2 separate regions of the Homo sapiens genome follow, and region 1 is linked to region 2. Evidence: fine-mapped expression QTL. A gene starts in region 2. The other region holds a variant in brackets. All regions are shown on one strand. Distances are between the middles of the regions.

Region 1 (5,374 bases), 43 kb after region 2:
TTATTTTTTAAATATCTGTGAAATTATAGCACATCCTTGCCTAATGGTAATGCTTTGCAGAACCTGTTAGGGGGTCTCTCTAATGAGTCAGATCTACAGGTACAATCATCAAATGTGCCCTTTAGTTTTACAAAGAATAAAATTATTTTTCATAGCTACATTCTCAAATCAGGATCATTACTGTTCTTTATGAAATGCGTCTCCCTTGCTCTTTCAGACAAACATCTCTAGAACATCTTTAAATTCTCACACAGCACCTACCACAGTGGTTATGCCCAACTGGCAGCAAGACCTAACATATATACGGTGTTTTACAACTCATTTAACTTTCATGGAGACTCCGGGAAATAGCTATTATTAGCTCTGCTTCCAGGAGCTGAGGCTTGGGGAAGTTAAGTGACCCGCTGAGCCCACTTAGCTCTTATGGGGAAAGAGCTAGTGTTTACTTAACCCCAAATCCCATATTGGTTCCAATCCAACAGAGCTGGTGGTAATGGTGGAAACCCGGACTGGCTGATCTCTGAAGGTCTTTATCAAGTCTGAGGACTGAGAACTCTGGCTCAGAGAGTTAGCACCCTCCAAGTGGCTGTTTCTTTGTTTGTTTGTTTGTTTGTTTGAGATGGAGTCTCGCTCTGTCGCCCAAGCTGGAGTGCAGTGGCACTATCTCAGCTCACTGCAACCTCTGCCTCCTGGGTTCAAGCAATTCTCCTGCCTCAGCCTCCCAAGTAGCTGGGATTACAGGTGCCTGCCACCAGGTCTGGCTAATTTTTGTATTTTTAGTAGAGATGGGGTTTCACCATGTTACCCAGGCTGGTCTTGAACTCCTGACCTCAGGTGATCTGCCCGCCTCGGCCTCCCAAAGCACTGGGATTACAGGTGTGAGCCACCGTGTCTGGCCCACAAGTAGCCGTTTCTTTGTTCACTCCAATACCTATTTCTCCTGCCTGCTGCCCAGAGAGTCTCCCACTACTGCTGCTGCTATTTCTACTGCCAGGAGCTGTTTGGCTTTATCTAGGGGGCTAAATCTCCTTTGATTCCATTCACATTAATTTCTGACCTTCCACTTTTCCATTCTAGTATGTGCTTGCACTAGATTCAAACAAACACTGTCAAGTGTGTCTTTTGTTTTCTTTGTTTTAGCAACACTGTCTTTGGAGATCTCTCCTTTTCATCATAACCAAGCTGCTCCCTTGAATCCCTCTGATTCTTCACATGGATGCCCCACCTTTGGGATCACTACCAGAGCTGCTGCTTCCCACGCATCATCACTACACAATTTCGGGTAGGCACTCTTAGTAAACTTAGTCAATAAGGATTCACTCATCGTGGCCTGTGCCCAGGGCTTCATAAGGAATATGGAAAGCATTCAAGAGATATTGATATCTTCAAGGAGTTTATATTCTTTTTAATTACCCTCTGTTGGCAAAAATAGCTGTCAAAGTGGCAGGTAAAAGAACTGCATGGAAAGTCAGTATAAAATCCTGTAAGCTGAAAGCTTACATTGACAGTCCTTTAAAGCATATAGGAATCTGCCCAAGGGAGTTGTAATGCCAAAGCTTAAGGTCAGCTCAGCCCTTTGGCACCAATCTGGGTGCTATGGCAGAACACTTAGAAGTTATCCCACCTATGGCCCCTTACTCTCACCCTTGACTTTGGTGTAGTAGACAGAGAGGGAGAAGGCAGTAGTGAAAAGTTGGTAGGACAGAGCTGTTGTTTGCTGGAATCTTCATTAACACCCCTTCCTCAGTCTGGAAGCGGGACTTTGGAGTGGCCAGATTGGCCATTTGGAATGTGAAGATGAGTGTATTCCCAGAAATATTCAGAAGAAACCCATCGCCCCATATTATCTTTTCCTTCTCAGCTCTGGCCAAGTACACACGTCACGTTCATTGGCAGAAACTCTAAGCCAGAATGGGAAGACCTTAGAAGCCAGAGTTCTATCCTGTTCTCTTTTTGGACATTAAAGAACGTCTCCCATTTCAATCCCCTCTCCTGCCCCAGAGACATGTTCCCTGTTCCTATTGCCTCTCCCACCATCTTTCCCTCATGTCCTCAGATGTGTTTGGGGATAGGATAATTAACAGGCACATGTATAGCGGAAAGAGCACGTCTTTGGCAGCATTGTGCTGTAATCACAGAATGCTGGAAATAACCTAAGTATCCATCAGTAGATTAGTTAAATAAATAATGGGACATTGGTGCAATGGAACATTACACAGCCATTACAATCATGCTGTGGAACGGTGAAAAATATTTTCAATGAAAACACTGGTGGAAAAACATGAAGGTTGCTAAAGTTTGTACAGTATAAACCTGAATGTTGTGAAAAATAAATGTGTGTGTGTGTGTGTGTGTGTGTGTGTGTGTGTGTATCAGGGTGAAGAATTATTTTTTCTTTTAAAAGTTCTGCTCCTTCTGTATGGGTGAAGAATTTGTAATATCTATAGCAGAGTTTAAAGGAATAAATTATCTTTTTGGAGGAGACTGGCTTCATCAACTGCTTCAGGTGGGGAAGGTGAAGCTTAGAGGTCAGTAGCAGGCACACACGTAGATGAAAAGATGCCCAGACTGCTTTGTATATGAAATGAAGGGAATCTGAGAGTGGGGAAACCTAAGAAGCTGAGAGGAGCTGGCGGGGAGAAAGAGTCCAAGCAGCATGGCGGGGAGCTGGAACCTGCCAAAAAATGTGAGTGGTCCATTTGAAATTCCTGGTGGTCTGATGGCCAAATGAGTTTTAGGAGGAAGAATTTCTACTATTCAATTTTTGAGATGTAAACTCCTTCTGCAT[C/G]TCATAACCTTCAGTAAAGTCTAGTGAAATTATACATCTGGGTGTAGTGGTGCTGTGGAATGTGAAAAGGAAGTAGCAGCAACAGGAAGTCGAGTGGCCCCTTGGTTGTCATGCAAACAGAGTGAGCAGCATCCTGTGGGAGGGGAGGGGAGAAAAGACAGGAGGTCCCTGCAGTGGCCCCAGCCCACGTGAGAACAACCCCTTGTTTCCTAAATACACTGGGAAAGGTAGACCTGAAGGGGGTTGGCTGATGTTTGTTTTACATATAAATGATCATACACCCACACGGAAGAAAAACGGCAAGGAAATAAACCAAAACGGTTAACTGTTGTCATCTTGGGGTGGTAAATGACAGAGTTTTACCTTCTTCTTTGTTTTTTTTTTTTTGTTTCTTGAGATGGAGTCTCGCTCTGTCGCCCAAGCGACGCTTGGAGAGCAGTGGCGCGATCTCGGCTCACTGCAACCTCCGCCTCCCAGGTTCAGGCGAGTCTCCTGCCTCAGCCTCCCGAGTAGCTAGGACTACAGGTGCACGCCACTGCGCCTGGCTAATTTTTGTATTTTTAGTAGAGACAGGGTTTCCCCATGTTGGCCAGGCTGTTCTCAAACACCCAACCTCAGGTGATCCACCCACCTCGGCCTCCCAAAGTGCTGGGATTACAGGCGGGAGCCACTGAGCCTGGGCTGCTTCTTTGTAATTTCTTATATTTTCAATGCTAAATTAAATTTAGCCTAAAGCTGCCTCCTTACATAGTCTAAGTTTGGCCTAAAGGTTTCTTTGTACATAAGGAACCATAGTAAACTGAAAACTAGCTGGATGTGTAAACAGTCTGCAACCTACTCTTATGCCAATCAACTGAGTTTTAGCCAATCAAAGGCAACCAAGTGTTCAAACTGAGTTCAAATAAGGCAAATGCAGAGCTGTTAAGTATCAGCTGTTTCTGTACCTCGCTTCCATTTTTTTGTACGGTGGCTTTCCTTTTTCTGTTTCGTAAATCTTCTTCCACCATGTGGCTGCACTGAAGTCTCTCTGAGCCTATTCGGGCTTGGGAGGCTGCCCGATTCACGAGTCATTCTTTGCTCAATTAAACTCTGCTAAATTTAATTTGTCTGAGGTTTTTCTTTTAGTATCAATAACTTCTGCAACTATGATGCTTTACTTTTGTAATTAGAATTTTTTTTTTTTTTTTTTTTTTTTTTTTTTTTTTTGAGACAGAGCCTTACTGTTGCCCAGGCTGGAGTGCAGTAGTGCAATCTCGGCTCACTGCAACCTCCGCCCCCAGGTTCAAGCAACTCTTCTGCCTCAGCCTCCTGAGTAGCTGGGACTACAAGCATATACCGCCACGCCCGGCTAATTTTTGTATTTTTAGTAGAGACAGGGTTTCACCATGTTGGCCAGGCTGGTCTCAAACTCCTGACCTCAGGTGGTTCACCCACTTTGGCCTCCCAAACTGCTGGGATTACAGGCATAAGCCACCACTCCCGGGCAGAAACTATTTTTAAAAAGTCACCACTAACCATTATCATCCCTTCAGAGAGAGCTGGGGGATGAGGGGAAGAGGAACTTGGGAGGAGAGGTGTGAAAAGGGATTCAGAAGGGTTTCCTAGGCAGAAAGCACTGCCTCTTCATGGGGCACTGTTCTGGGGATGCTTAGGGTCATGAGGGACCCTGGGTGTTTTGGTGGAGGAGCAGCTGTGAGCGGATCCAAGGGACACACCTGCTAGTGCTCTCACTCCCAAGATGCCTGATTAAGCCAAGGACTTTCTTCATCCTACCCCAATAAGGAAGCTCAGTAAGCTGGCATCTGCCTGATGCACAAGAGGGTGGGTGGGGCAGTCCCGAGGCTGCCAGCCCCATGGCTTCTCTGTCGGATGTCTCCTTCTATGAGCCTCTGCCATCCTCTGTTTCTCTTCCCACCAGAAAGCCTTCTTTCTTGTTAAGCTCCCCTGGGGACTCAAATGATCACAGCATGTATCTTCTCTTCCCAGCAGGCAAATCCTTATTTTCCGCTGTCAGATTCTCAACTGGTCTGACTTGTGAGAGTGCCTGAAGTTCTTTCCCTGCTTTTCATTTCAAAGACAGGGTCAGGGGGAATCCTGGGGCAAAGTGTGAAAAGTGGCAGGGAACAGGCACTGTCTAACTGAGCCTTATTCATTTGGAGAATCTCAGGCTGGAGATGATGTGTGCCTAGAACCCACAGTTTCTAAGTGTTTCTTAGACTGACCCAAATCCTGAGAAGCTGGAAGGGGCATAGACCCCTGACCCATGGGCTCTTGGTCATGGTGGAACTCTGTGGTCTTTCAACTAACTGATGAGTTATATGTTCACTCAGCCTCCCTTGACCAGGAATACACCAGGCATGGTGGTAGACAATGTCCACACCAAAGGCTGTTGGCTTATACCTTCTCACCTCTCCTGTCTTGCAGACACTTAGGGAGATGGCACTCTTTCCCCTGGCCCCTGTTTTGTCCTCACCTTTTTGCTCACTTGCTTCCCGTGTTTCCCCATAGCCTTCTTTGCTGCATTCTTTCCCTCTCTCTTTCCCTATATTTTCCTCTGTCTTCATGCATACTGGAGTAGGAGTTAGA
Region 2 (5,374 bases):
AAAATCTTGGTTTCCTCAGCTTTGTTCACTGTGACAAGAAAGAGTGAGCTCCCACAGTGACAGCAACAGACTCTGACACATCTTTTCAATCTTACTTCTCTTTCCATTTCCTTTAAAACTTTTGGCCTTAAAAACTTTGACCAGTGTGTAGGATTGTTATAGAGACAGACAAGTGGTCCAGGAAAGAAACTCAGGGAATTTCCGACATGAGGGAAGAGGAAGGAAATCCTTTGTCTCACATTTGTTGTTTCCTTTGGAGTGTTTTCCAAAGGACACTGGCCTGTTGACAAGGCATCCCAAGGGCTTTGGGGCTGGCCCTTCCTTTTCCTTGTCCCTGGTCTATGTCTGTCCTTGTAGCCTGGTGCCTGCTTCAGGGCTGGGAGCTGGGGTTGCCAGATGTGCTCTGAACCCTGCTGGCAGAAGCACTTGTGTTTGGCCTCTGTCTCTGCTTCCCTGCCCTTCTCTTCCCCAGGTCCTCGGTAGCCCTGTTGAAAGGCCAGTGGCTTCTCATGCTTTCAGAAAAATTTAGACAATAAAGAGGCTGCAATGATGAGCTGATTGCTTTCAGGCTGACAGCTAAAGTCTGTGTCGGCACTGAGTCAACCATCAAGAGGGAAGGTGAGCACCTTCCAGCTAATGCTGGGTTCCCAGCTCCTCCCATTGGCTTGTGAGACGTGCTATGTCCATTTTGTCTCTTCTCTCCCTTCAGCCTGTGTGCATTCCTCTCCTCTGGGCCCACTGCTCACCTGCTCTCATTCTGTTCTTTAGTATTCTGTTCTCTCTCTCATCCCACACTATCTTCAAAGAGAGCCAGGCCTTGGAGAACGGAGGGAAGTCCAAGTTCCCCTTTGGCTTCTGACTCCCAGTGTCCCCTTTCTGTGCCCTTTGCTCACCCTCTTTCCAGGATCTGCCTCCTCCATGCTTCTCCACCCATAGCATCACTGCCTATTCCTAGGAAGGATTTGGATACCAGTCATGTGTATCTTCAGCAGCCTCATGGCATGATGTTTTGGAACACACATGCACTTGGGAACTTAGTAGCTTGGGTTGAAATCTGGGCCCTGTTCCTTACATGCAACTTTGAATATGTTAACAAAAGTCTCCATGGGCAAGTTTCCTCAATCTGTAAATTGGGGCTAACAGTATATATCATGTGATTGTGAGGATTAAATGAGTAATGTATGTAAATACTTTGGACAGTGCCTGGCACTTGAGGAGTTTTATAAAAATTAGGTATTACTACCATATGAATACAAATGAATGTGCTGTACCTCAATAAGGAGATCGGTGAGTAGGAGAGGCCCCCTTCCGTGCCATGGCAAGCTCAATCAAGGGCCACCATGGGGTGACCAGGCTGTGGGAATGGCCAGATCCATGCGTGCTGCCATCAGCATGGCCAGGTGAACGTTGGTGATGACCAGAAAAGGCTGAGCCAAATGCTCAAATCAGCACAGTGGGCTTGAGACTTTGGGAGCCACTGTGGAGAAGAAGAGCACAGTTGAGATAGGGAATGGAAGGTAGGTTCTGCACAGGCAGGCGTGATGTCATTCCTCCTGTCACTGGGCTGCAGGGTGAGCATCAAGCCAGCCATGCAGGAGAACAGAAAGTGCACCCTGCTGTAGAGGGGTGTGGGGGTGTGTGCATGGCCAAATAGAAGACGTGTTGCTTCCCTAGGAACCTGCTAGCGGACTGGTAGGAGGGACCGCAGTGTGTGAAGCACTGATTGCCAATAAAAACCATTTCGTTGTCACCTCCCTCCATATCCTGTGCCCTTGTTCTGGTCCTCAATGCAATTCATAGGCTTTTCTTTCCCCTCCCAGGAAAGGTCCCTGGGCAAAGCCTGTGACCACAGCCACACCTGTAGGTGTGTGAATTACCGTCTTCTATGTGTCTTCTTTGCTTTCTCTAAAAGGGAGGGATGGAAAGCTTTTCTTTTTAATTTTTATTTTTTTGACAGGGACTCACTCTGTCTCCTAGACTGGAGTGCAGTGGTGTCATCATAGCTCACTGCAGTCTCTGCCTCCTGGCTCAAACGATCCTCACACCTCAGCCTCCTAAGTAGTTGGCACTGATAGGTACATGACTGCCATGCCCAGCTTTTTTTTTTTTTTTGTAGAGATGAGGTTTCTCCATGTTGCCCAGGCTAGTTCTGACTTTTATGAAAGACACAGTATCATTACCCAGCAGGATGACAGATGTTAGAGATCCAGGACCTCCTCCTGGTGCTCCCTGGCTCAGTGGTGGGGCTATCTTCCCAAGGGAGAAGTGGCAGATGGCACACAGGGTTCCCCCGCTCAAGGCTTTTGGGGCACCGTTCATCCTGGGGCATCACTCACATCTGCAGTCCCAGGAGTTGCACAGGGTGCAGATTTGCCCGGGGACCCCAGCCTCAATTGGGCTCAAAGGGACTCTGCCTCAGGATCCCTTCCTCCCTGTTCTTGGCTGTCTTTTGTGAAGAGCTGTGGGTGGGGGAAGGTGACCGTGGGGACTGAGAGCAATCAAATTGAAATGCAGGGCTAAGAGAAGCCATTGCTTTGGGCAGAAAGAGAAAATTCATGGCAGAGGGAAGAGCAGGTCCCAAGCTTCCCCACCACCCCCCATGTCCCCGCTCTCACCTCAAGCTTCAGAGGGCAGGATCCTGCCTTGGAGATGATGTACCAACACAGCTACCTCCCCACCAGTTCATTAGGAAGACAAATGCCTGAGCCAAATTCCTTAGGATTTGCCAAGAACCAATTCCTTAGGATTCTTTTTCTGGCAACTTCCATAGCATTGCCAAGCTAATGGAGGGATCCCAGGGATATATCTGATGCCTGGAGCAACAGGAAATGCGGGAGCCCACAAGACGATCAGTCAGGTGTGTGCACCTAGCACAGTGGCAATGCCCAGTGTCCTGATACAGACCTTTGTAGTTCCCTTGGGCTCAGGAGGAACCATAATGCCAAATGACACAGTCACATGGAAGGGCAGGGCTGCAGCCACAGTGACTCAGCAGGAAAAGAGTTAGTTCCCCAGAAGGATCTAGCTTGAGGAATATCTGAGGCCAGAGTGTAGCGGTTGGTCTGTTTGCTTTTACATTCTGCAACCCATTTATTGATAAAACTGTTGTGTTTTTCAATGTTAAGTAAAATGCTATGCAAAAGTATCCTCAAGCCAAGTCCCCTAGCTCCAGGGGTGATTATCAAAATAATGCCAGAAATTAATGTTTTTATGCAAGGATGTCGAGGAGGTCCTGGAGTCCAGGGGAAGGGGCCTTGGGTGGTTCAGGGTAGTGCCATTTACCAGCCTGGAGGAAAAGCAGTTTAATATTTTCAACAACCTATATTGATACACATGTGTTGGCTGAATGTCAGCCCTGCCTAGCCCTCACCTCAAACTGACCCTCACCTCAAACTGAAGCTTTATTGCATAAGCATTGTGGTACTTACTCTTGCCTGAATATTGAAGAAACCCCATTCCTCATCTCCAAATCCCTCATATGGCTGTTTCTCCAATGTGAGTTTCAGAAGACTCTGAAGTGTGAGAAATCTCTCTGCTTTGACCAGTCTTTTGGGCAAGGCCTCATGTGTCAATAAGGGTGTGTCTCCTTCCTTTCCAGCTCAGTCCCAACTATTTTCTTTCATATAACACGTACTGTCCAGTGGAACTTCTTGCTCTTTCTTTTCACACACACCCTAAGCATTCATGTCTGTAAGCCTTTGCTCCTGCAGTTTCCTCTACCCGGGTGCCTTTTTCTCTTCTCTCCTTGTGTCCAACTCATGGTCATCCTTTAAGGCCTTTGCAAATGCCACCTTTTCCAGGAAAGTCTCCAACTATTCCTCTCTTCATAAATGATCTCTCTCTGTCCTGTGACATCTTAAAACAATTTTTTAAAACTTCAGTATGGCACTTTAGAATTTTGTCATCATCATTACTGACATCATCAACATCATCATTATTTGGCTGGATTCATTGAGAATCTACTATGCGCCATGAAAATATTCTGTGCTCTACAGTCTCATTTGCTTTTCTGTCTTGTAAAAATAATTATGTATGTATGTATGCATGTTTTCTTCCTTTCTAGCATACAGTAATAAAGCAAATGGAATTTGGAATCAGATTTGGGTTTGGACCCGAGTTCCATTATTTGGTTGTAGGACTTTAGGCAAATTACTCAGGCTTCCTAAACTTCAGCTTTCTTGTTGGTAAAACACTGATAATAACACTTACCTCATAAAGGGTAATTGTATTACATCAAATAATAATAATAATTGCCAGCATTTGTTCAGTGCATATTATATGCTGGGCAGTGCTCCAAGTACCAATTCTGTATTATTTAATAATTTAAATCCTCACAGTAACCCTATGAAATAACTAATAGTACCCTTACTGTACGGAGGGAGAATCTAAGGCAAAGAAGCCAGTCAGTGGAAAGCTAGAATAAGAATTTTGACTTTAGAATCCTCACTTTTTTTTTTTTTTTTAACTGAGTCTCACTCTATTGCCCAGGCTGGAGTGCAGTGGCACTACCTCAGCTCACTGCAACCTCTGCCTCCCAGGTTCAAGCAATTCTCCTGCCTCAGCCTCCCGAGTAGCTGGGACTACAGGCACCCGCCACCATGCCTGGCTAATTTTTGTAGAGATGGGGTTTCACCATTTGGCCAGGCTGGTCTCAAACTCCTGACCTCAAGTGATCTGCCCACCTCGGCTTCCCAAAGTGCTGGAATTAGAGGCGTGAGCCACCACGCCTGGCCAGAATCCTCCCTTTTAATCATTACCAACAAATGCCTCTGTAGGGTGGATGATACCTGGCCTGGGCTGGATATTGTCTGGACGGTACGTAGCCCAGTATCTGGCAAGTATTTCAAAATTGGCAGCTGTAATTCTTATTCCCATTCTTACTGCTCAGGGCTGGGGTCTATCCTGTGCATCTCTGTTTCTCCACAGCACCTCATAACACTAAGAGCTTGCATTTGTTTAGCATTTTCCATGTGCCAGGGACTGTGCTAAGCCTCTAGCCCTAGCAAATGAATAAATGAGTGATTGAATAAATGAATGAATGAAAAGATTAGACAAAAGCTCTTGAACAGTGGGCAAAGACTATCTGAAAAGAGGATTCATCCCTTCCAGTTTACTTGCCAGGCAAAAAGATGAAGGGATGGAGGAGAGGCCTCCCAGGGACCTGAATAACTCCCAGTATTCATCAGTATTTTCATTAACGACTTGAAAGATGGAGTGCAGAGTATGCTAATCAAATTGGTGAAGCCTGCGAGGCAGAATAGAAGCTGAGCACTTATGAGGGAAGCTGGAGCTTGCAGACAGTACTTGACAAATTGGAGAAATAAACAGAGTTAATAAACAGAGCTTCAGGAGCTGCAGACTTCAAGTGGCTCCA

The links. PIP is the estimated chance that this variant, and not a neighbour inherited with it, causes the effect. A credible set is the group of variants that fine-mapping cannot tell apart.
Region 1: its variant is the best candidate, but not a certain one, in a credible set for the expression of LINC01269 in whole blood (TOPMed, PIP 0.61).

What each region holds. Positions count from the first base shown.
Region 1 is chr14:70,653,208-70,658,581 of GRCh38, reverse strand. All of the region lies in intron 1 of TTC9 (tetratricopeptide repeat domain 9), which reads right to left. Among named protein-coding and RNA genes, the nearest start is that of TTC9, 14 kb to the right of the region's middle. RefSeq lists enhancers at 3,842-3,901, 4,475-5,061 and a silencer at 3,962-4,101. The variant C/G (reference allele first, on the strand shown) is at 2,789.
Region 2 is chr14:70,696,098-70,701,471 of GRCh38, reverse strand. LINC01269 (long intergenic non-protein coding RNA 1269) reads right to left here and starts at 2,774. Exons shown (of 4, transcript NR_125769.1): 1 at 2,616-2,774; 2 at 1,272-1,477. RefSeq lists enhancers at 2,057-2,556, 2,557-3,058, 2,465-3,664.